5 separate regions of the Homo sapiens genome follow, and regions 2, 3, 4 and 5 are each linked to region 1. The links come from fine-mapping of genetic effects on gene expression. A gene starts in region 1. Each other region holds a variant in brackets. All regions are shown on one strand. Distances are between the middles of the regions.

Region 1 (5,105 bases):
CTAGGGATATGATTGAAATAGAAGACAGAATTTTAACGAGGTGCATTCTTTCTGAATAAATCTGCAGATATAATGCAATGTCAATCAAAATCCTAACACTTTCCAAGTAACAGGGTTCTTTGTTCTTTTAATTGTTTTGTTTTTTGTTTTTTATTGAGATAGGGTCTCACTCTGCTGCCCAGGCTGGAGTGCTGTAGTGCAATCATAGCTCACTGCAGCCTCAAACTGCGGGGCTCAGTCGATCCTGTCACCTCAGCCTCCCAAAGTGCTGGGGCTACAGGTGTGGGCTACTCACCTGTACAATGTGCTCAGCCAACCACACGTTGTTTTAAAAGCTATTTACCAGCCAATAGAGCTACTTCTTTCCTCCTTACTTTTCTTTTTCAGAGTTTTTGTTATATCTTTTCCTGTTTACACTATCAATTGCTTTTAGAATCATTCTATTAAATTTTAAAATAATGGAATACACAGTAGTGGACTAAAACCTAATATATTAATTGAAAATTAATTTTCCTGTGCTACTTTTTGGAAGGAAGTCACTGTGTACAATCCACCTTTAAGGAGTGAGGAGTTATGCTCTGTATCACGAGGACCTTTTGTTTTTTGTTGCTATTGTGAAAGATTTCTTTTAGTATTTTCATATATGTTATTACCAATATAAAGGACTGATATGACTTGTTGAAGAACTTCTATGTAGCAACTTTATTAAACCCCTTTATCAATTCTATTAGCTTTTGTTCATATTTTATTTCTTTGGGTTGTGTGGATTTTTTTTAAGAGATGGGGTCTCACTGTGTTGCCCAGGCTGGTCTCAAAACTCCTGGGTTCCAGTGATCCTCCCACCTCGGCCTTCCAAAGTGTTGGGATTATAGGCATGAGCCACTGTGCCTGGCCCGGTCTGTCAATTTCTACTGTGAGTAATCCCTTTGCCTTTTCTTTCCTAACATTATACATTACATTTCCATTTCCTGTCTTATTACATCAGTCAGGACTTCCAGAAAATTATCAAAAAACAGCAGTGATCAGAGATCTAGTGAATATCCTCGGGTATTTGTCTGTTGACACTCTCAGTTCTTTTGGGAAACTGCGCTACTCCATATGTACAGTCCTTGTGGGACGAGACCAGTCACAGGGCACCTAACCCTAACCCTGTAGGTTCAAAGCTGGGTGCATGGTCCAGGGCCAGCCAAACATCAGACCCTATTTTCCCACCCAGGGCGATTGTTCCAGAGGTGGGCAAGAAACCTAAGCAGGGCCAACCAGATTTTCTCCCAGTTTTTTGTTTGTTAGTTTGGAACCAGAAGAGAGGAGGGGAGGGCCTTACTTTCTGGTTTAACAGACGGGAAAGATAGGAACGAGGGTATCAGAGGCCACCACTGTCACTTGCACAGGAAGAGAAAGGCTGCCGGCAGAGGAGGAAGAGAAACTACGGAAAGAATCCCAAGGGGCGAGGAGAAGGGAGGAGAGGGACAGAGATGGGAAGAGGGACAACAAGAATGATCTGGTTTTGTTTTTTTTTTTTTTTTGAGTGGAGTCTCCCTCTGCCACCAGGCTGGAGTGCAGTGGCGAGATCTCGGCTCACTGCAACCTCTGCCTCCCGGGTTCAAGCAATTCTCCTGCCTCAGCCTCCCTAGTAGCTGGGATTATGGCGCGCGCCACCATGCACAGCTAATTTTCGGTACAGACGGTGTTTCACCATGTTGGCCAGGATGGTCTCGATCTCTTGACCTTGTGATCCGCCCGCCTAGGCCTCCCAAAGTGCTGGGATTACAGGCGTGAGCCACCGCGCCTGGCCTAATGACCTTGTTTTCAAATCCCTGAATCCAAACTTCCTGATTATGTGAGCCAAAAAATTTGTTTTCCATTTTCTCTACTTACATTGGATCATTACAACGGAAGGAATTTTGACTATTAGAGAAATCAATCTTGTCCTGGTAACTGACACTTATTAGGTAACGGCTGGTGCCAGGCTGAGGGCAGGTGGCACTGACTCCGGTCCTCCGCCCAGGCAACCCCAGTCTTCACAGCTGGCGACGAGTGTTCTTTCACGTTTGCAGATGAGGAAGCTGAGGCTCTGGGAGGAAAGCGCGCTGCTCCTGCCCTTCTGGGCCGCAGCCTCTCGTACTCCCACAGCAGGCTTGATGGATAAACTTCCAACACGACCAGCTGGCACAAACTGTGCTACTTGGCAAATGGGAGCATGTTGCTCTATCCTGGTAGATTCTAAGTTCTCTAATGGAACAACTGATGAGAGGAGAGGAGTATGCAACACCCTAACCAGCATCAAAGGGTGTACCCAACTCAATCTGCACAGCAAATGCGCCCAACCCCACACACCCCGCGGGGTGCTAACCGAGTCACGGCTCGAGGCCTCTGGGTCCTTCCACGCCAGGTCATTCAGAACCTGAAACCCCCAGCGGAGGTGGAGAGCCGGGGTGAGTCCTGGCGTCCGAGACGTGGAGGACCCAGCCCCCGGAGCGCGTTCCGTTAGTTTACAGAGCTTTTTCAAACTTTGCCTTCCAAGTGCAGGAGTTCCTTGGTCTTTGCAAGACCCGCAGGCGTCCGCAGTGGTGCAGAGAGAGGTGCAAGGGGCGCGCCCAAGGTCGCAGGCTGCCTGGCTGCGCGCTCAGTCGGGCCCCCGGGCGCCAGGCGCGGGGCGGGCTCTGGGCGGGCGGCCGGGGCGGGGACTGCAGAGCAGGCTGCACTGCGCGGTACCCACTGCCGGCCTGCGCGGTACTCACTGCCGGCCTCCGCGGTACCCACTGCCGGCCTCCGCGCTACCCGGCCGCAGCGCGCGAGTCACATGGAAGCTCCTGAGGAGCCCGCGCCAGTGCGCGGAGGCCCGGAGGCCACCCTTGAGGTCCGTGGGTCGCGCTGCTTGCGGCTGTCCGCCTTCCGAGAAGAGCTGCGGGCGCTCTTGGTCCTGGCTGGCCCCGCGGTGAGTAAGGTGGCCTCAGTGGCAGGCCGGTACCGGCGGGCTGGGGACCTGGTGATTTCTGCCTCCGCGGGTGACTTTGGCGGGCTTTGGGGACCGAGCGAGCTGTCCGCCGGCGGGCTCCGGGGAGCATCGTGCCAGGAGCCGGGCGGGCACCCCAGCTCCTCTGCCTGCGTCCCGGCCGCTTTCCGCTCCGCACCACCCGACTGGGGGCCCCGCGGGGCACTGCGGGAACGGCTGGTACGCGCCCGGGCGCATGTTGGCTCGGAGAGGCCGGCGGCTCCAGCCTCCTGCGCCAGGAGACACCGGAGAGCTGGGACCTTTGCCCCTAACGGGGCTCTACCAGGTCCAGGCTGCATTTGCATCCGGGGGTGCCTTCTCTGGGAGCTGATTCCGGCCAATAAAACGCAAGTTGCCTGAACTTCAAAACACAAGGGAACTTGTTTCTTTGAAAAGTAGCGGTCAAAAGTTCGGGAGCTCTGCGATCTAAATAATCCCGAGGCACGGAGGAGGGGGTGCGTGGTCTGTCGTGGACTCAGAGCTGCGAAATGATTTCTTCAGAATTCAGTCAACCTCTACCGAGGAAACCAGAGGCATCCTGTACCACCCCCTCCCCGCCAGTAATTATGTATGTGAAAGAAAAAAGGGGTTTTAATGTGGTTCTTTGTGGGGTCGAGGTGTTCTTATCTGTGGGATTCTTTTCTTTTTAATCATTAGGTTAGGGCTGTTTCTGCCTTGTCTCCTAAAAATAATGTGGTTTTAAAAACCACAAAAACACAATCCTATCCACGTTCTCCTGCCAGCTTGGGTGGTTTTCAAACCGAGAGGGTAGGACGCGGCACAAGAAGCAACTGGTATGCACTTAAGGCGTGAATAAGCTTTTGACTTTGAGGCCCACATTCTGCACCTGCGCGGGCTGAGGGGGGCCGCTGTGCCTCTGGAGTGGGGGCTCGGTAGTTTGTGGGATATTGTGGCACCCGCTGTGGTGTGCAGGACAGCAAGGGTAATGCCGAGGTCAAAGCCATGGAATAAGATCCATCAGCCATGCTTTCTCACAGACCAGAAAGAACTCATGATTTGGGGCTGGGCGCGGTGGTTCACGCCTGTAATCCCAGCACTTTGGGAGGCTGAGGCAGATGGATCACTTGAGGTCAGGAGTTCGAGACCAGCCTGGCCAATATGGTGAAACTCCGTCTCTACTAAAAATACAAAAATTAGCCAGACGTGGTGGCGGGCGCCTGTAGTGCCAGCTACTCCAGAGGCTGAGGCACGAGAATCGCTTGAACCTGGGAAGTGGAGGTTACAGTGAGCCAGGATGGTGCCACTGCACTCCAGCCTGAACAACAGAGTAAGACTTGGTCTCAAAAAACAAAACAAAACAAAACAAAAACACCTCATGGCTGGGCGTGGTGGCTCACGTCTGTAATCCCAGCACTTTGGGAGGCCAAGGCAGGCGGATCACGAGGTCAAGAGATTGAGACCATCCTGGCCAACCTGGTGAAACCCCGTCTATACTAAAAATACAAAAAATAAAAAATAAAAATTAGCTGGGCATGGTGGCAGGCGCCTGTAATTCCAGCTACTTGGGAGGCTGAGGCAGGAGAACCGCTTGAACCCGGGAGGCGGAGGTTGCAGTGAGCCCAGATCGCGCCATTGCACTCCAGCCTGGGCAAAAAAACACCTCATGATTTGGAATCTCAAGACCTGGGGCTGCGTGCCCTGCTTTGACCTCCGAAAGTAAGTCAGGAAGCAGCTGTGCAGATTGAAACAGCCTCCTAACCTCTTCTGGTCTCTGCATATTCATTTGTAAAATGGAGATAATAATCATGTCTTGGTTCAACACTCCCTCACAGAGCTGCTGTGAGAAGGGGCTTTCTAAGGCTATTATTGTTTTATTATTATTATTATTTTTTGAGACAGGGTCTTGATCTGTCGGCCAGGCTGGAGTGCAGTGGTGTGATCACAGCTCACTGCAGCCTCAACTTCTGGAGTAGCGGAGATTACAGGCACACACCACCATGCCTGGCTAATTTTTGTATTTTGGGTTAGAGATAGGGTCTCCCTGTGTTGCCCATTGCTTGAATTCCTGGGCTAAAGCAATCCTCCTGCCTCGGCCTCCCAAGAGCTGGGATTATAAGCATAAGCCACCTTGCCCAGCCTGTTATTGCTT
Region 2 (5,105 bases), 100 kb after region 1:
CCCGGCACTTTGGGAGGCTGAGGCAGGTGGATGGCTTGAGCCTAGGAGTTCAAGACCAACCTTGGTAACATGGCAAAACCCCATCTCTACAACAAAACCACACGTCTGTAGTCCCAGCTACTCAGGATCTGAGGTGGGAAGATCACTTGAGCCCAGGAGTTCGAGGCTACAGTGAGCTCTGATCACACCACTGCACTCCAAAAAAAAGTTTTTTTTCCAGAAGATTATGTATGTACGTATGTATGTATGTATGTATGTATTTAGAGACAGGATCTGGCTCTGTCTCCCTGGCTCAAGCAGTGGCATGATCACAGCTACTGTAGCTTTGATCTCCTGGGCTGAAGCGATCCTCCCACCTCAACCTCCCATGTAGCTGGGACTACAGGCGTGTGCCACCACTTCTGGCTAATTTTTTTTTTTAGTTTTAGTAGAGATGAAATCTCGCTATGTTTCCTATGGTGGTCTTGAACTTCCGAGCTCAAGAGATCCTCCTGCCTTGGTCTCCCAAAGTGCTGGGATTACAGGCGTGAGCCACTGTGACTGGCCCTAGATTTTATTGAAGTAAAATTCATATAACATAAAATTAACCCTTCCAAAACATTTTTATCATACCAAAAAGGAAACTCAGATTATTAACCTCTCACTCCCCATACCCCTCTCCCTGAGTTCCTGGCAACCACTAATCTGCTGTCTGTGCCTGTGGATTTACCTATTTTGGATGTTTCATAATGAAGGAATCATAGAACATGTGACCTTTTGAGTCTGGCTTTTTGAACTTGGCATGCATGATGGTTTTGCAATTCCTCTATTTTTTTTTTTGAAACAGAGTCTCATTCTGTCACCCAGGCTGGAGTGCAGTAGCACGATCTCAGCTCACTGCAACCTCCACTTCCCAGGTTCAAGCAATTCTCCTGCCTCAGCCTCCTGAGTAGCTGGGACTACAGGTGCGTGCCACCATGCCCGGCTCATTTTTGTATTTTTAGTAGAGACGGGGTTTCACCATGTTGGTTAGGCTGGTCTTGAACTCCTGGCCTCGTGATCCACCCACCTCGGCCTCCCAAAGTGCTGGGATTACAGGCATGAGCCACCATGCCTGGCCCGCGATTCCTCTATGTTGTAGCATGTCTCTCAAAACTTGATTCCTTTTTCTGGCTGAATAGTTTATTGTGTGATATGCCACCTGGTGTTTATTAATCAGTTGATGGACTTTTAGATTGTTTCTATGTTTTGGCAATTGTGAATAATGCTGTAGTAAATACTCGTGTACAAGTTTTTGTTTGAACACCTGTTTTCGCTTCTTTTGAGTCTATACCTAGGAGTGGAATTACTGGGTTATATGATAATTCTATTTTTTTTCTTTCTTTCTTTTTTTTTTTTTTGAGATGGAGTCTTGCTCTGTTGCCCAGGCTGGAGTGCAGTGGCGCGATCTTGGCTCACTGCAAGCTCTGCCTCCTGGGTTCACGCCATTCTTCTGCCTCAGCCTCCTGAGTAGCTGGGACTACAGGCACCCGCCACGATGCCTGGCTAATTTTTTGTATCTTTAGTAGAGACAGGGTTTCACCATGTTAGCCAGGATGGTCTCAATCTCCTGACCTCATGATCCGCCTGCCTCGGCCTCCCAAAGTGCTGGGATTACAGGCGGATAATTCTATTTTTTTTGAGGAACTGCCAAAATGTTTCCCATGGTGGCTGCACCATTCTTCATTGCCACCAGCAGTGTATGAGGTTTCCAGTTTCTCCACATCCTTGCTAACACTTGTGATTTTCTTTTTGATTTTAGTTATATCATACTAGTGGGTGGGAAGTGGTGTCTCATTGTGATTACTAGAGATCACATACTACTAATAATGCCAAGCCTATTTTCTGAAATACTTCAGAAACTCAGATACACATAAAGAAAGGAATTATGTACTAGAAAAGGAATAAATGAAGGTAAAATATTTTATCCTTCTTATTTTTAATTGATAAAAAATATATGAAAATAATAGCAACAATGTATTTGGTTATTACAGCTTGTGCATAGCTAAAATGAATGACAACAGTGTTATAAGGGTCAAGAGGGAGGAACTGAGAATATTCTAAGGCACTTGCATTACCCATGAAGAAGAATAGTGTTATTCAAAAGTGGAATTAGGTTAGTTGTAAATGCATATTGCAAACTCCAGGACAACTAATGAAAAAGTTTTTAAAAAGTAATATAATCAATATGCTAAGAGAAGAAAGAAAATAGCATCTCATAAAATGCTCAGTTAAAACCACAATGGAAGAAAAAAAGTAACAAGGACAACAAAGAGAAAAGGTGGGCAGGGCGTGGTGGCTCACACCTGTAATCCCAGCACTTTGGGAGGCCGAGGTGGGCAGATCACGAGGTCAGGAGATAGAGACCATCCTGGCTAACAAGGTGAAACCCCGTCTCTACTAAAAATACAAAAAATTAGCCAGGCGTGGTGGCAGGCGCCTGTAGTCCCAGCTACTTGGGAGGCTGAGGCAGGAGAATGGCGTGAACTCGGGAGGCGGAGCTTGCAGTGAGCTGAGATC[G/A]CGCCACTGTACTCCAGCCTGGGCAACAAAGTGAGACTCCGTCTCAAAAAAACAAAAAACAAAAAACAAAAAAATAGAAAAGGTAACATATACAGATACTAATCTCACTATACCAATAATGACACCTTTTCTTTGAAAAAAAAAAAAACACTTAATAAAGTGAGAATAGAAGGAAAGCTCCTCAAAATGATAAAAGCCATATATGACAAACCTCCAGCTAAGATCATACTCAATGGTGAAAGACTAAAAGATTGTCCCCTAAGATCAGGAACAAGACAAAAATGTCTGTTTTCCCCACTTCTATTCACAATACTATTGAAAGTTTAAGATGGTGCAATTAGGCAACAAAAAGAATAAAAGGCATTTACATTGGAAAGGAAGGAGTAAAATTACCTGTGTTCAAAAATAACATGATCTTATATGTATAAAACCCTTAACATTCCACAAAACCATTAGACTCAATTAACAAATTCAGAAGTCACAGGATGCAAATCACAACACACAAAATGAGTTGCATTTCTATACACTAGCAATGAATGATCCCAAAAAGAAATTAAGAAAACAATTACATTTTTAATAGCATCAAAAAGAATCAAATGCATAGGAATAAATTTACCATGGAGGCAATAGACTTGTACACGAAAAACTATAAAACATAATTGAAAGAAATTAAAGAAGACATAAATAAACGGAAAGACAATCCATACTCATGCATATGAAGACTTAATACTGTTAAGATAACAATATTACCAAAAGTGATTTAAAGATTCAATGCAATCTCTATCAAAATCCCTAAGACATATTGCAGAAATAGAAAAATCCACCCTAAAACACATATGGAATCTCAATGGACCCAAATAGCCAAAAATGTCTGACAAAGAAGAACAAAGTGAAAGGACTCAGATTGCTTGATTCCAAAACAAACTACAAAGCTACATAATCACAGTGTGGTATTGGCATAAAGACATGCCTATGGACAGAATTGGGAATGCAGAAATGAACCCTTGCATATATGGTCAAATGACTTAAACAAGGGTGCCAATACCATTCAATGGGAAAAGGAAAGTCTTTTCATCAAATTGTGCTGGGAAAACTGGATATCCACATAGAAAAGAATGAAGTTGATCCCCTATTTACGATATATAAATATTAGCTCAAAAGTGGTCAGTCTGGGTACAGTGACTCACACCTATAATCCCAGCACTTCGGAAGGTCAAGATGGGCTGATTGCTTGAGCCCAGGAGTTCAAGACCAGCCTGAGCAATATGGCAAAACCCTGTCTCTACAAAAAATACACACACACACACACACACACACACACACACACACACACACACACACAAAAGGTGTGGTGATGTGTGCCTGTAGTCCCAGCTACTCAGGAGGCTGAGGTGGGAGGATCACCTGAGCCTGGGAGGTGAAGGCTGCAGTGAGTTCTGATTGCACCACTGTACTCCAGGGTGACTGAGTGAGACCCTATCTCAAAAAAAAAAAAAAAAAGTGATCAAAGACCTAAACATAAGACCAAACACTAAGCCTGCCAGAAGAAAACATAAGGGGAAATCTGGATTTGGCAGCGATTACTTGGATATGCACAAGCAACAACAACAAAATAGATAAACAGGACTTCATAAAAATTAGAAACTTTTGTGCATAAAAGGACACTATTAATAATATAAACAGGTAACCTTCTGAATGGGAAAAGGTATTTGCATAGTATATATCTGATAAGGGATTTATGTTCGGACATAAATTCTTAACAACTCACAAGAACAAAATATACAAACAGCCTAATTCAAAACTAGGCATATGGCTGGGGATGGTGGCTCACACCTGTAATCCCAGTACTTTGGGAGGCCGAGGCAGGTGGATCACTTGAGGTCAGGAGTTCAAGACCAGCCTGGCCAACATGGTGAAACCCCATCTCTACTAAAAACACAAAAATTAGCTGGGCATGGTGGCAGCCACCTGTAATCTCAGCTACTCAGGAGGCTGAGGCAGGAGAATCACTTAAACCTGGGAGGCGGAGGTTGCAGTGAGCCAAGATCACGCCACTGCACTCCAGCCTGGGTGACAGAGCGAGACTCTGTCTCAAAAACAAAAAACAAAAAAACTAGGCATAGGACTTGAACAGACATTTCTCCAGAGAAGATACATAGCTAACCAGGGCATGAAAATATTCTCTCTGCATCACTAGTCATTAGGGAAATGCAAATCCAAACCACAATGAGATATTACTTTATACCTATTATAGGGGTCATTACAGAAAGAAAACAGAAAGCAAGTTTTGGTGAGAATGTGGAGAAATTGGAACTATTGTACATTGCTGATGGGAACATAAAATGGTGCAACCACTATAGAAAATAGTATGTGAGATCTTTAACAAATATAGAATTATGATATGCTGCAGGGACTCAAACAGATATTTGTACACCAGTGTTCACAGCAGCATTACTCACAATAGCCAAAAGGTAGAATCAACCCAAATGTCCATTTTGTAAATGGATAAACAAAATGTGGTATACTTACAATGGAATATTAATCAATCTTAAAAAGAAATGAAACTC
Region 3 (5,105 bases), 57 kb after region 1:
GTCCCCCACAACTTCACCTTCTACAATGGCACACATTCTCCTGCAGCATCTGTCTCCCCCATGTGGAAAACTCTCTTTTAAGCTTCAGTTTCTGCTGCCTCTACCCTCCATGTTAACAGTCCCAGCTCCTGGGAGCAGGGACACATTGTCCCAGGACATGTGTAAAATGCCACAGGGGCCTCTGTGGTTGTCCCTGGCTCAGAAGCTCCCCCAATGCTGTCAGCTGTTGGTGGGGAGGGCGGGAGCAGATGATGGGAAACCGGACTGCCTGGGCGCCGGGCAGGCGCCCCTGGGAGGGGTTGCTTGTGGCGCAGGCCCCCAGCCTCGGCCTGCCTGGCATATGCTGTTAGCAGTGCATTTGTTTTCTCAAGTCCTTTGGAGTCAAGAACCTCAAGCGCGTGGGGATCATACTTCAGAGAGGGGTCCTCATCCTTATGCTGTGCTGCTTTCCCTGCTGGGCCGACTTGGTCAACACCGAGCGCATCCTCCTGCTCTTAAAACAAGACCCGAAGTCTCCAGGTGAGGTCCCCTGTTTCCCAATCCTAGGTTAAGAGTAAGTGGCTATCTGGTCATTGTACCTGTGTGGACATTTTCGGCCAATTACATGGTCTTGATCCCTTTCAAAAATGAAAGCTGGCCAGGCACAGTGGCTCACGTCTGTAATCCCAGCACTTTGGGAGGCCGAGGCAGGTGGATCATCTGAGATCAGGAGTTCGAGACCAGCCTGGCCAACATGGTGAAACCCCGTCTCTACTAAAAATACAAAAAAGTTAGCCAGGCGTGGTGGTAGGTGCCTGTAATCCCAGCTACTTGGGAGGCTGAGGCAGGAGAGTCACTTGAACTTGGGAGGCGGAGGTTGCAGTGAGCCAAGATCGTGCCATTGCACTCCAGCCTGGGTGACAAGAGCAAAACTCCGTCTCAAACAACAACTACAACAACAACAACAACAACAACAACAAAATGAAAGCTGTGACTGTGGGCCACAGGGTCTGGGGGCTGCAGGGACCACCTGACTCAGGGTGACAAGATACAGGACCAGGGTGTTGTGTGCCTGGCCTGTCTCCCGTTCACCGAGTCCCTCCATTTTGCTGTCTGGCAAATGCAGAAAATATTTTTCCCCTGAAGTAGAATAGCAGTGTAATCGCCTTCACGTATGACTTTAGTGTTGGGTTTTTTCTTTAACCTATAATTCCAGTGTATTCTCTGGTATTGTCCTTGGGGTGCGTGGTCCTTTCTAGAAGACTGTCTCGCTCACTGTTAGGTGACCCTGACACTTTCCAATGGTTTCTGAATTTTGCCCAAGTTTTAGTTTTCATGCTAAGAATGAGCTGAAAAATGGAAAGTGGTCAGACTGCCCCTTAGATAGCAGACATTTAGTAGACTTAGTGTCATGTTTGTGTAGGTTGAAGAAAAACACTTAAAAGTTGTTATTAAGTTTCTCTCATTTTTAGGCCGGGTGTGGTGGCTCACGTCTATAGTAATCCCAGCACTTTGGGAGGCTGAGGCAGGAGGATTGCTTGAGCCCAGGAGTTTGAGGTTACAGCGAGCTATGATGGTGCCATTCTACTCCAGTCTGGGCATCAGAGCAAGACCCTGTCTCTAAAAAGTAAATAATTTTTAATTTTAATTTTTAGAAAATACTCTGTGGGTTCAATTTGAAGACAATATGACCAGCAACTGTTTTAATATTAACTGAAGACTATTTTGTTTGTTTCAGGATAGCCCAAATTTATGTGCTGATTTTCATTCCTGCCCTTCCTGTAAGTTTCAAGGCTGTTGTGTCTCACTACATGAAGCAGCTCACATGTGTCGCCCTGCACATGCCCCTTCCCCCGGCTCTTGTTTCTCCATCTTGGTGCAGTTCATGCCAAAAGCCCGACATGTATTTCTTGGCCCTGTCGTCCCTCCCTTGCTGACTCTCAGGACATGTACCACTCTGGTGTACAGTAGCTTAAATTAAAGACAAAGATTGGGCCGGGCACGGTGGCTCATGCCTGTAATCCCAGCACTTTGGGATGCTGAGGCAGGTGGATCGCGAGGTCAGGAGATCGAGACCATCCTGGCTAACATGGTGAAACCCCGTCTCTACTAATAATACAAAAAATTAGCCGGGCGTGGTGGCGGGCACCTGTAGTCCCAGCTACTCGGGAGGCTGAGGCAGGAGAATGGCGTGAACCCGGAAGGCGAAGCGTGCAGTGAGCCCAGATCGTGCCACTGCACTACAGCCTGGGTGACTGAGCAAGACTCTGTCTCAAAAAAAAAAAAAAAAAGACAAAGATTGATGAGGGGAAGACATTTCCTTCCTGATTCCTTGTTCTATGGTTATTTTTGATTGCAAATCAACCAGAATGTTTCTGGATCATCTAGGATTTGGGGAGTGCTGCATTCGGGCACCCTCGGAGCCGTTCGAAATGTCAAGACGGTGGCTTCTGCCTCAGCCAGTTGGAATCGGCCTGTGTCAATTCTTCAGGGAGTACATCTTTTATCCACTCTGGAAAATTCCAAATAGTGCCCTAGCATTGTCTCATGTGAGTGAGGTTCTCTGAGATCATACATCAAGGGGAAGTGTCTTATTTAAGATTAAAAACC[G/A]GAACTAAACTAAACCGTTGGAATTTATATTAATGAGAAGTGTTTGTTTTTCTGTTTAAACTTACAGGCAGCATTCTTGTTCCAGCTGCAGACAAGATATTTACAAAGTCAGGTATAGATTCTTTTTACAATTTTTACTCCATAATCCTGGAAATGTCTAGTAAATATTCGTAGGGAATGTTCTATAACAGTAATTCACATTTTTCCCCCTGTAATTCTACCTTAGAGTTCTTTGCCTGAGAGATTGAGGCCTTGTAGGTGAATTTTGTCTAGCCCAAGAGAGACGGCTGTATCAATCCATCCCATTCCCCTTTCAATCACCACCACCTGCTTCGACCCCTGCCCCGACCCCTCCCCTCTCTTGGGGCTGGTGCCAGCTTTGCATCTGGCCTGGGGCCTGGCTCCTGTGCTTCTGCTTTAGAGAGGAGGGCCTGGGGTCCCTACAGCCACTAGGGAGCAGCGAAGGAGTCTGAGGGCAAGATTTGGGTGGACAGTGGAGAGAAGCAGAGCTCTGCCTCCCCGGGTCCCTTCTCGCCCATCTGAGGCCGCAGCCCTCTTGCCTTACCCAGCTTTGGTAACAGTCAGCTCTCTGTTTCAATGCAGGAATGAAAGAGAGGTTTTACTGAAAGAAAATGTTTGAATAGACAGGATAAACAAAAGAAATGAGTGACTGGCGCCTACAACAATAGGGTGAACATGTTCTGCACACCTGCTATGAAGCAGGCATTGCTGGGTGTCTTGTATGCAAGAACTTTAGCAACTTGGCACAGATATCTTCCAAGCTGCCTCTCCTTCACTTCATGCCAGGGCCCATTTGCCCTTCAGGAGGTTTTTTCTCTCTGCTGCTCTTCTGGAAACCATGACCTACCAGGTTATTCAGAAGCAGTTGCAAGCTTCTGGTTGGGATAGGCAGATAATGCACCAACGGAGGAGACTAATCTGGTCATCTCAGCTCCTGACCATTCCAGTCCTGAGTAACTTTGCCATCATTTAAACTGTTCCCTGTTTAACTGTGAGTGTTCACTTGATAGGCTAGCTAATTAGCTTTCGAAAATGTGAATGTTTTCCTATTTGTTTGGGGGTTTTAGGGCATCAGCATGCCTCAAGTTATTACCAGGATTGCAGCTAATGTCATCAACGTGGGCATGAATGCCCTCTTGCTGTATGCCCTGGACTTCAGAGTGGTGTAAGTCACGACCCCTGAATTCAACACATACTGAATGTCTGCTGTCTGCTGTCTCCTGTCCCTGGGACTGGGGATAGCGAGAGTGAAATCGTCTGGTAGAGGGAATATGGACAGGTGGACAGGCAATAGAGTTGGGTGTTCAGGTGGTCTGTGTGCCAGATGAGAACTGGGTGCCACAGGACCTCACAGGAGAAGCAGCTGGCTCAGGCTGTTGGAAGGAAGGTCAGTGGGTTAGTGGGTGGAGAGATAGGGATGGTGCCTGGGAAGAAGCGATGTGTAAGCTGATTGTGTGTTGAGGTGGAATTCGCCTAGAGAAGGGAGTTGCTGTGGTCTGTGAAGGCTGAAAGGGGCCACCCCAGCAAAGACAGAGTAGGGCAGACACCTTAGGGATTCTCCTAGCATCTTGGAATTGTAAGAAACTGAGCCCAATTGCATCCTTATGAAGCTTGAGGAGATGAGGGTCCCAGAAAGAAAACACTATCAATTCACTGGTCCCTCACTGGGGGACACTTCTGTGCCTAGAGCCAGAGCCAGGCTCCTCAGTGTGGCCAGAAAATCTTTAAAGGCTGGCTGAAGATGGAACATAAGAACACATCAGTGAAACACACCTTCTGTCAGAAAGCTGGACGAGGCACTGGCCCGGGAAGCTGGAGTCCCACAGGGAGGTGTGAGCACCAGTTGGTTGACCCATGTCCAGAAACAGGAGGCCTGGGCCACCCAGGTTCTCCTGGGAGGTGGACCTCAGAAAGCGTCTCTTAGAGGTTTCCCCAACAGATGTACACAGGGAAGCTTGGGGATAGCGGGGAAAAGGAGAAGAAAATTTAGGAATGGATTAACAAAGGGTAAAATGGAGGATTGGGTAGGGGAGTGGAATGGAAAAATAGACAGGAAGACAGAGTCCCTGGCTCTGTATGCCAGAGCGGGGCATGGTTCTATTTGTTGTGATAAAATATGACCTATGGAAGACACTCCATGGTTATTTTCCAATACAAAGATGTTGAGCATCTTTTCATATATTTGTTGACCATTTATATATCATCTTTGGAGAAATGTCTCTTCAAGTCTGTTGCCCTCCCTTTTCTTAAATCAGGTTACTTCTTTTTTTGTTGTTGGGTATAGGAATTTTGGTTGTTGTTGTTGTTGTTATTGTTTTGAAATGGAGTCTCGCTCTGTTGCCCAGGCTGGAGTGCAGTGGCGCAATCTCGGTTTACTGCAACCTCCGCCTCCCAGATTCAAGCGATTCTCCTGCCTTAGCCTCCCGAGTAGCTGGGATCACAGGTGCCTGCTACCACGCCTGGCTAATTTTTTGTATTTTTAGTAGAGACGGAGC
Region 4 (5,105 bases), 160 kb after region 1:
AAGCCAGATCAAGATAACAAAAAATAAAAATTACAAATGTTCCTCATGAACACAGACTCAGAATTTTTAACAAAATATTAGCAAACCAAATTTAGTAATATACAGAAAATATATACACCATGATCAAGAGAGGTTTATCCGGGCCAGGCGCAGTGGCTCATGCTTCTGATCCCAGCACTTTGGGAGGCCGAGGCAGGTGGATCACGAGGTCAGGAGATCAAGACCATCCTGGCCAACATGGTGAAATCCCATCTCTACTCAAAGTACAAAAATTAGCCAGGTGTGGTGGTGCGTGCCTGTAATCCCAGCTACTTGGGAGGCTGAGGCAGGGGAATTGCTTGAACCCGGGAGGCAGAGATTGCAGTAAGCCCAGATTACGCCACTGCACTCCAGCCTGGCGACGGAGTGAGACTCTGTCTCAAAAAAAAAGAGGTTTATCCCAGAAATGCAAGGTATAACACCTGAAAATCAATTAATACAAAACAGCATATTAATAAAGAACAATTAATGCAAAACACCATATTAATAAAGAACAAAACCACATGATTATCTCAATAGAAGCAGAAAAAGCATTCCGCAAAATCTAGCACCCAATTATGAGATATCTCAACAAACTAGGAATTAGAAGGGATCTTTCTCAACTTGAAAAAGGGCATTTAGGGAAATGCTACAGATAAAATTTAACACAGAAAGACTGAATACTTCGAATACTTTCCCCTTAATAGTGGAATCAAGGCTCAGATGTATGCTCTTTACACTTGGATTCAACATTGTACTGGAGAGCTGGGCACAGTGGCTTACACCTGTAAACCCAGCACTTTGGGAGGCTGAGGAGGGTGGATCACCTTAGGTCAGGAGTTGGAGACCACCCTGGCCAATGGTGAAACCCCGTCTCTACTAAAAATAATAATAATAATAATAATAATAAATAAATAAAAATTAGCCAGGCACGGAGTTGCGTGCCTGTAGTCCCAGCTACTTGGGAGGCTGAGGCAGGAGACTCGCTTGAACTTGGGAGGCGGAGCTTGCAGTGAGCCAAGATCGCGCCATTGCTCTCTAGCCTGGGCGACAGAGCGAGACTCCGTCTCAGAACAAAACAAAACAACATTGTATTGGAGGTTCTCCCCAAATTGGAAAGCAGAAGTAAAAGTGTCTATTCACAGATGACATGATCCTACATGTAGAAAATCTTAAGGAGCTCAGACACACAAACTATTAGAACAAGGTCACAGGATAAAGGATCAATAATCAAAAAATCAATTGATTTTTTATAAACATGAACAATCTAAAATGAAATTAAGAAAACAATTTCATTCACAGTAGCATCCAAAGAATAAAATTCTTTGGGATAAATTTAACAAAAGAAGTATAAGATTTGTCCATTGAAGACTATAAAACATTGCCGAGATAAAGAAGTTCTAAATAACTAGAGACATTCTGTGCCCATGGATTGGAGGCCTCAATATTGTTAAGATGACAGTTCTGTCCAAATTGATCTATAGATTCAACACAATTCTTTTCAAAATCTCAGCATGCTTTTTAGTAGGAATTGATAAGCTGATTCTAAAATACATACAAAAATGCAAAGGACCTAAAAGAGTCAAAAGAGTTTGGGGACAGAAAAGAACAGTTGGTATATTAATAGTACCTGATTACAAAACTCCCTGTAAAGCTACAGTAATTAAGACTGTCACAATGGCATAGCATAGACATAAATCAATGGAACGGAATTGTGAATTCAGAAGTAAACCACTACATTTATGGTCAGTTGATTTTCAACTGTGTTTCCAAGAAACTTAGTACTGGAGAAATGAGTCTTTCATGTGCTAACAAATGGTGCCAGGACAATTGGATATCCATATGTAAAAAATGAATTTAAACCCTTACCTCATATTATACACAAAAATGAACTAAAAATGGATCAGAGGCCAGGCGCTGTGGCTCACACCTGTAATCCCAGCACTTTGGGAGGCCAAGGCGGGTGGATCACGAGGTCAGGAATTCGAAACCAGCCTGGCCAACATGGTGAAACCCCATCTCTACTAAAAATACAAAAATTAGCCGGACGAGGTGGCACACACCTGTAGTCCCAGCTACTCAGGAGGCTGAGGCAGAAGAATCGCTTGAACCCGGGAGGCAGAGGTTGCAGTGAGCCCAGATTGTGCCACTGCACTCCAGCCCGGGTAAAAGAGCAAGACTCCATCTCAAAAAAAAAAAAAAAAGGATCATAAACCTAAATGTAAGAAAGACTTAACATTAAAACTTTTTAAAGAAAACAGAGGAGAAAATCTTTGTGACCTTGGGTTAGGCAGAGTTCTTATATATAAAATAGCAAAAGCATGAGCCATAAAAGAAATTAAGAAATTGGACTACATTGAAAGTGAAAACTTTTGCAACTCAAAAGATACCATTAAGAAAATGATTCAGTTAGACAGGAAGAAAAAGTTTAAGAGACCTACTGTACAACATGTTAACTATTGTATACTTGAAAATTGGTAATAGTATATTTTAAATGTTCTCACCACAAGAAAATTAGAATTATGTAAGGTAATGCATATGTTAATTAGCTTGATTTAGCCATTTCACAATGTCTAAACATAGTGAAATGTTTACATATATACAAACATAGTGGCTGGGTGCATTGGCTCATGCCTGTAATCCCAGCACTTTGGGAGGCTGAGGTGGGAGAATGGTCTGAGCCCAGGAGTTCTGTAGTGAGCTATGATGGTGCCAACTGCACTCCAGCCTGGGCAACAGAGTGAGACCTGTCTTAAAAAAAAAACAAAGAACAAAAAAAAAAAACAG[C/CA]AAAAAAAAAAAAAAGAAAAAATGTATACCATAAATATATTTATCTGTGAATTTAAAAAATAAAATTTAATTTAAAAAGATAAGCCACAGCCTGGGTTTGCAAATCATAAAGCTTGATAAAGGACTTGTATCCAGAATATATAAAGAACTCTTATAACTAATAATAAATGTTATGGGTTGAATTGTGTCTCCCACAAAAGATACTGAAATTCCTTTTTTTTTTTTTAAGGTGGAGTTTCGCTCTTGTCATCTAGGCTGGTGTGTAATGGCACAACCTTGGCTCACTACAACTTCCACCTCCCAGGTTCAAGCAATTTTCCTGCCTCAGCCTCCTGAGTAGCTGGGATTACAGGTGTGTGCCATCACGCCCAGCTAATTTTTGTATTATTAGTAGAGATGGGGGTTTCACCATTTTGGCCAGGCTGGTCTTGAACTCCTGACCTCAGGTGATCTGCCACCTCAGCCTCCCTAAGTGCTGCGATTACAGGTGTGAGCCACTGTGTCTGGCCAAAAGATGTTGAAATTCTAACTCTCAGTACCTGTGAATGTTACCTTATTTGGAAATAAGGCCTTTGCTGATGATCAAGTTAAGATGGAGTCATTAAGGTAGGCCCTAATCCAATATGACTGGTGTCCTTATTAAAAGAGGGAATTTGGGCCTGGTGCGGTGGCTCACACCTGTAATCCCAGCACTTTGGGAGGCCGAGGTGGGCAGATCATGAGATCAGGAGATCAAGACCATCCTGGCCAACATGGTGAAACCCCATTTCTACTAAAATACAAAAAAAAAAAAAAAAATTAGCCAGGCAGAGTGGTGCGCACCTGTAGTCCCAGCTACTTGGGAGGCTGAGGCAGGAGAATTGCTTGAACCCAGGAGGTGGAGGTTGCAGTAAGGCCAGATTGCAGTACTGCACTCCAGCCTGGCAACATAGCAAGACTCCATCTCAAAAAAAAAAAAAAAAAATAGAGAGAATTTGGACAGAGACAGACATGGAAGGAAGACTTGAAGAGACAGGGAAAAGATGACCATCTACAATCCAAGAAACCCCTGAGGCTACCAGAGCTAGAAGAGAGGCCCAGAACAGATCCTTCTTTAGTGCCTTCAAAGGAAGTATAAGTATGACCCTGCTGACACCTTGATTTAGGATATCTGGTCTCCAGAACTGTAAGACAGTAAATTTCTGTTATGTAAGCCATCCAATTTTTGGTACTTTGTTATGGCAGTGCTAGTGTCTTAGTCCATTTTGTGTTGCTATAACATAATACCCTAGACTGAGTAATTTATGATGAACAGAAATTTATTTGGCTCACGGTTCTGGAGGCTGGGAAGTCCCAGATCAAGTGACAACATCTGTTGAGGGCCTTCTTGCTGTATCATCCCAATGCCTGAAGGGCAAAAGAGCACACAAGAAAGAGGGGAAGGGGGCCAGACTCATCCTTTTGTCAGGAACCGACTCTTGAAATAACTAACCTGCTCTTAAGATAATGACATTAAGGCCAGGCGTGGTGGCTCACGCCTGTAATCCCAGCACTCTGGGAGGCTGAGGCGGGCGGATGACGAGGTCAGGAGTTCGAGACCATCCTGGCTAACACGGTGAAACCCTGTCTCTACTAAAAATAAAAATAAAAAAAATTAGCCAGGTGTAGGTGGTGCATGCCTGTAGTCCCAGCTACTCGGGAGGCTGAGGCAGGAGAATGGCATGAACCCGGGAGGTGGAGCTTGCAGTGAGCTGAGATCGTGCTACTACACTCCAGCCTGGGAGACAGAGCAAGACTCCGTCTCAAAGGAAAAAGATAATGACATTAATCCTTCTCTTAAAGGTCCCACCTCGACAGGGCACACTTTGGGAGACTGAGGCAGGAGGGTTGCTTGAGGCCAGGAGTTCAAGACCAGCCTGGGTGACATCATGAGACTTTGTCTCAAAAAAACAAAAAGACAACCAAAAAAAGTTCTATCTCTCAACACTGTTACATAAACATATGAACTTCGGAGGACACATTCAAACCAAAGCACTTAGCAAGCAAATACAACCAGCTACCAAATATTATATTTTCATATTTTTAAAATTTGTTTTATTTATTTTGTAGATTGAGACAGGGCCTTGCTCTGTCACCCAGCCCAGAGTGCAGTGATGCAGTCATAGCTCACTGCAGCCTTGAACTTCTGGGCACAAGCTATCCTCCCACCTCAGCCTCCCTAGTAGCTGGGACTACAGATATGCACCACTATGCCCAGCTTTTTTTTTTTTTTTTAATGTTTTGTAGAGATGGTATCTTGCCATGTCACCAAGGCTGGTCTT
Region 5 (5,105 bases), 29 kb after region 1:
TTTCCCACCAGGTGTGAGGCATGAGGCTGCTTCTCTGCACGTGTTCTCGCTCTGCAGTTTCTCACTCATTGTTGCAGGTTTCCTTTTTATTTTAGGTCCCTGCAGGCTTCAGTGTGGCTGCCAGTGTCCGGGTAGGAAACGCTCTGGGTGCTGGAGACATGGAGCAGGCACGGAAGTCCTCTACCGTTTCCCTGCTGATTACAGGTGCTGAGACCCCTTTACCCGAGGCTCTTGGTGCAGTCTCTGCATGCAAAACCCAGGCTCCTCCACTTCCTGTGGATCTTCTTGTTCACTGTGTTGTTTCTTCTGCCGTTTTTACCTTCAGTGCTCTTTGCTGTAGCCTTCAGTGTCCTGCTGTTAAGCTGTAAGGATCACGTGGGGTACATTTTTACTACCGACCGGTGAGTGCTAGGATTTTCTTGAAATGTGAAATCTGTGATAAAGAAATGGTTCATTGAGAAAATTTGTTCTCTAAAATCAGGCTGTTCAGAAACATTGCTGTTTGAAATCATATCAGTAAAAAGAAAACATCTCACTCACACCTGTAATCCCAGCACTTTGGGATCACCTGAGGTCAGGAGTTCAAGGCCAGCCTGACCAACATGGTGAAACCCTATCTCTACTAAAAATACAAAAATTAGCTGGGTGTGGTGGCAGACACCTGTAATCCCAGCTACTTGGGAGGCTGAAGCTGGAGAATCTCTTGAGCCCAGGAGGCAGAGGTTGCAGTGAGCCGAGATTGTGCCACTGCACTCCAGCCTGGGCAACAGAGCAAGACTCCGTCTTAAAAAAAAAAAAAAAAAGAAAGAAAGAAATGGTTCCTCCAAGAGCAAGATGCCAGCAGAAAAAGTTTTTTAAAACTAGGAATTTTTTTTAAAAAGAGGCCGGGCACAGTGGCTCACGCTGGTAATCCTAGCACTTTGGTATGTCAAGGCTGGCAGATCACCTGAGGTCAGGAGTTCGAGACCAGCCTGGCCAACATGGTGAAACCCCCATCTCCACTAAAAATACAAAAATTAGCTGGTCATGGTGGCACACGCCTGTAATCCCAGCTACTCAGGAGGCTGAGGTGGGAGAATCACTTGAACCCAGGAGGCAGAGGTGCCAGTGAGCCAAGATCGTGCCACTGCACTCCAGCCTGGGTGACAAGAATGAGACTCCATCTCAAAATTTAAAAAAGAAATGGTTAAATTGGATAGATGCTATCATAGAGGCCACCTATGGTTGTTGCAGCAGGGATGTCTGACTCATTTGCAAGATCAGAGGCTCGGCCGGGCGCGGTGGCTCACACCTGTAATCCCAGCACTTTGGGAGGTTGAGGCGGGTGGATCACAAGGTCAGGAGATCAAGACCATCCTGGCTAACACGGTGAAACCCCGTCTCTACTAAAAATAGAAAAAATTAGCTGGGCGTGGTGGCGGGCGCCTGTAGTCCCAGCTACTTGGGAGGCTGAGGTAGGAGAATGGCGTGAACCCGGGAGGTGGAGCTTGCAGTGAGCTGAGATCCCGCCACTGCACTCCAGCCTGGGCGACAGGGCAAGACTCTGTCTCAAAAAAAAAAAAAAAAAAAAGATCAGAGGCTCCACTGATGTTACTTGGGAAGAACATATTAGATGTAGGAACTGATGTATAATCTACAGTGCCAACTTAATGGGCATTGGTAATGATTTTATGCTTCTGCTGGTCATGTATTTTAAAGGTGGAAACCCCTTTTTAGTACGATTAATTACATTTTCAGTTAATTATTTTGTTTCCAGTGATAAGAATCCTCTTGGTTTCTTAGTATCGGCCAAAGTGCCCGGTTTGTAGTAGTTGCATAATATGTTTGTCAAACTGAATTGAAGTTAAAATCTCACCAGTGAGCTGTCTCAAAAGTCATATTCTCAGATTGATTACTGAAGAATTCTTGGATAAGTCCCCTCTGCTCTGCAGAATTTGTTTCCTTCATCAGCGATGCTAGTGTGTACATTCGGACTATATAGAAAC[T/A]TCGTGGGGGTACTTCTTATTTGGACACCTTTGTCAGCAGTTACAAAATGCAAATGGACTTTGCCTTCCTGGATTCAGAAAGCTGGTGGAGCGGACAGAACTAATTTCATGGTTTATTCTTCACACATTTGACTTTTGACTTCAGATCGTAGGTTTTCATTTTTCAGCTTCAGCTATTTTGTTATGGGGAAATAAGATGTTTAGGCCAGGCACGGTGGCTCACTCCTGTAATCCCAACACTTTGGGAGGCTGAGGCAGATGGATTGCCTGAGTTTAGGAGTTCAAGACCAGCTGGTCGACATGGGGAAACCCTGTCTCTACTAAAAATACAAAAAAAATTAGCTAGGCGTGGTGAGGCACGCCTGCAATCCCAGCTACTCAGGAGGCTGAGGCAGGAGAATCACTTGAACCTGGGAGACGGAGGGTGCAGTGAGCTGAGATTGTGCCACTGCACTCCAGCCTGGGCAACAGAGTGAGACTCTGTCTCAAAAAAAAAAAAAAAGTTTATAACTCCCTCACTCAGAATGAGTGGGGAAGGCGATGGCAAATAGTTGGCTTTTCTCACAAAGGGAATCAGGATGAACTTTATGAGGACCAGGATAAATGGATGGTTTCAGAAGGAATATAGTAGAAGCTGGACTCTGAATCTGTCCACTTGGGAAACCATACAGCCCAGGAAAAGAATGAAAAACAAGAGGCCCACAAACTATAGAACTGACGAGATGAGGAAACATCAGAAACTCAACAATCAAATTACTTGTAAGGTGGCCAGGATCAACCCAACCTGGTAGAATCGGTGAAAGAGATGAACCTCTACCTAACTTAATCACAGGGGGCGGGAAACGGCACCTCTAACAAATAAAGGGGGACGTTACTACTAAACACAATCATTTTTAAAAATCCTAAGAGACTACTTTGCACAACTTTTTCCAAGGAAATCTAAAAATGTGGAATAAACAGATAATTTTCTAGGGAAATAATTGATCAGTATGTACCCTAGAAAAGATAGAAGGTCTAAATAACTGATTTCCTGTAAGAAATAAGAGAAAGCTTTTTTTTTTTTTTTTTTTTTTTTGACGGAGCCTCCCTCTGTCGCCCAGGCTGGAGTGCAGTGGCATGATCTCAGCTCACTGCAAGCTCTGCCTCCCGGGTTCACGCCATTCTCCTGCCTCAGCCTCCCAAGTAGCTGGGACTACAGGCGCCCGCCACCACGCTCGGCTAATTTTTTGTATTTTTGGTAGAGATGGGGTTTCACCGTGTTAGCCAGGATGGTCTCGATCTCCTGACCTTGTGATCCGCCCGCCTCGGCCTCCCAAAGTGCTGGGATTACAGCCATAAGCCACCACGCCCGGCCGAGAAAGCTATTTTAAAATGTCAAAAAGCACAATCCCAGAAGGTTCCAAAGGATAATTTTATAAAATCTTCAAAACATGGGGAATTGCAAACATAGATAAAACAGAAAATTTCAGAGCACAGGAAAAGGAAAACTTTGCATTCTGTTTATGAAGCAAATATAACATTGGTGCCAAAATCTGACAAAGTTTGCACATAAAAAAGAAAGAAAATCACAGATCACTCTTATGTATTAATATGAATTTAAAAATCCAAAATAAAATGTTATTAGACATAGGCTGGGCGCGGTGGCTCACGCCTGTAATCCCAGCACTTTGGGAGGCCGAGGTGGGTAGATCACGAGGTCAGGAGATCGAGACCATCCTGGCTAACATGGTGAAACCCTGTCTCTACTAAAAAATACAAAAAATTAGCCGGGCGTGGTGGCACGCACCTGTAGTCCCAGCTACTCGGGAGGCTGAGGCAGGAGAATGGCGTGAACCCGGGAGGCGGAGCTTGCAGTGAGCCGAGATTGAGCCACTGCACCCCAGCCTGGGCGACAGAGCGAGACTCCGTCTCAGACAAAAAAAAAATGTTATTAGACAGAATTTAGCAGCACATTGAAAAGAATATATTTGGGTGAAATATAAAAGTGAATATAGGCCAGGCGCGGTGGCTCATGCCTGTAATCCCAACACTTTGGGAGACTGAGGCAAAAGGATCACTTGAGCCCAGGAGTTCAAGACCAGCCTGGGAAACATGGCGAAACCCCATCTCTACAAAAAATAAAATTTAGCTGGGCATGGTGGTGTGCACCTGTAGTCCTAGCTACTCAAGAAGCTGAGGTGGGAGGATCACTTGAGCCTGAGAGGTTGAGGCTGCAGTGAGCCATGATTGCATCACTCCACTCCAGCCTGGGTGACAGTGAGACCCTGTCTAAAAAAAAAAGTGAATATAATATCTCAGGTGGAAAAAGCAAGGTGCAGAACATCATATAGAGAATGCTGCATGTGAAATGATAGAATATAGAAAGGAAAATTAAGAATATACATTTGTATTTGCTTATATTTTCATAGACACTAGACAAACATGGAACGTGCTAGGAATTGTTACCTGGAGGAGGCAGGGCTGGTACTGGGGCAAACTGGAAGGGCATTGCAGTAAGACTTTGCTTACTATCTTGTTCATATTGTTCCATTTTTTGACCATGTGCATGTTACCTATTCAAAAAATAAAATTTGAATAAAATAATTATATTTCTGTCCTTTTTGGTGAGGAGGAAGTGATCATCTTGTTCAGTGCTGGATTTCTTTTCTTTTCTTTTTTTTGAGATGGAGTTTCGCTCTTGTTGCCCAGGCTGGAGTGCAATGGCACGATCTCGGCTCATCGCAATCTCCGCCTCCTGGTTTCAAGTGATTCTCCTGCCTCAGCCTCCCGAGTAGCTGGGATTACAGGCATGCACCACCACACCTGCTAATTTTGTATTTTTAGAAGAGATGGGAGTTCTCCATGTTGGTCAGGCTGGTCTCGAACTCACCACCTCAGGTGATCTGCCTGCCTTGGCCTCCCAAAGTGCAGGGATTACAGGCATGAGCCACCACTCCTGGGCCAGTGCTGGATTTCTTATTTAGTAATTAAACAAGTATTTATTGGGAGACAGTCTTCTAGGTTCTAGTTTAGAGTGACAAAACTCACTCCAAGGGTGTTGTGAATTTCCTGCTTCCCCAGGTCAGGGCAGCATTTTTCTCATCTCCCTTCACATGCAGAGGTTAGAATCCAAGTCTCTAG

Alleles and levels. Alleles are on the strand shown, and positions count from the first base shown. SD is a standard deviation of normalised expression in the study named. Not every link is listed here.
For the expression in monocytes after LPS of the gene that starts at base 2,718 in region 1, allele C in region 4 goes with a higher level than allele CA (large effect, 1.0 SD a copy in Fairfax 2014).

Evidence for each region. PIP is the estimated chance that this variant, and not a neighbour inherited with it, causes the effect.
Region 2: its variant is fine-mapped to the expression of SLC47A1 in whole blood (TOPMed, PIP above 0.99).
Region 3: its variant is fine-mapped to the expression of SLC47A1 in whole blood (TOPMed, PIP above 0.99).
Region 4: its variant is fine-mapped to the expression of SLC47A1 in monocytes after LPS (Fairfax 2014, PIP 0.95).
Region 5: its variant is fine-mapped to the expression of SLC47A1 in iPS cells (HipSci, PIP 0.95).

Annotation. Positions count from the first base shown.
Region 1 is chr17:19,531,137-19,536,241 of GRCh38, forward strand. It overlaps SLC47A1 (solute carrier family 47 member 1), which reads left to right and starts at 2,718. Exons shown (of 17, transcript NM_018242.3): 1 at 2,718-2,938. The coding sequence starts at 2,804.
Region 2 is chr17:19,634,339-19,639,443 of GRCh38, forward strand. No RefSeq gene overlaps it. Among named protein-coding and RNA genes, the nearest start is that of ALDH3A2, 12 kb to the right of the region's middle. The variant G/A (reference allele first, on the strand shown) is at 2,539.
Region 3 is chr17:19,588,088-19,593,192 of GRCh38, forward strand. It overlaps the pseudogene SLC47A1P1. Among named protein-coding and RNA genes, the nearest start is that of SNORA59B, 33 kb to the left of the region's middle. The variant G/A (reference allele first, on the strand shown) is at 2,590.
Region 4 is chr17:19,692,710-19,697,814 of GRCh38, forward strand. The region is part of intron 13 of SLC47A2 (solute carrier family 47 member 2); the gene reads right to left. Among named protein-coding and RNA genes, the nearest start is that of SLC47A2, 21 kb to the right of the region's middle. The variant C/CA (reference allele first, on the strand shown) is at 2,806.
Region 5 is chr17:19,560,093-19,565,197 of GRCh38, forward strand. It overlaps SLC47A1 (solute carrier family 47 member 1), which reads left to right. Exons shown (of 17, transcript NM_018242.3): 11 at 96-204; 12 at 326-401. It overlaps LOC105371578 (a long non-coding RNA gene), which reads right to left. Exons shown (of 3, transcript XR_934310.4): 2 at 4,431-4,537; 3 at 203-433. Among named protein-coding and RNA genes, the nearest start is that of SNORA59B, 5.1 kb to the left of the region's middle. The variant T/A (reference allele first, on the strand shown) is at 1,986.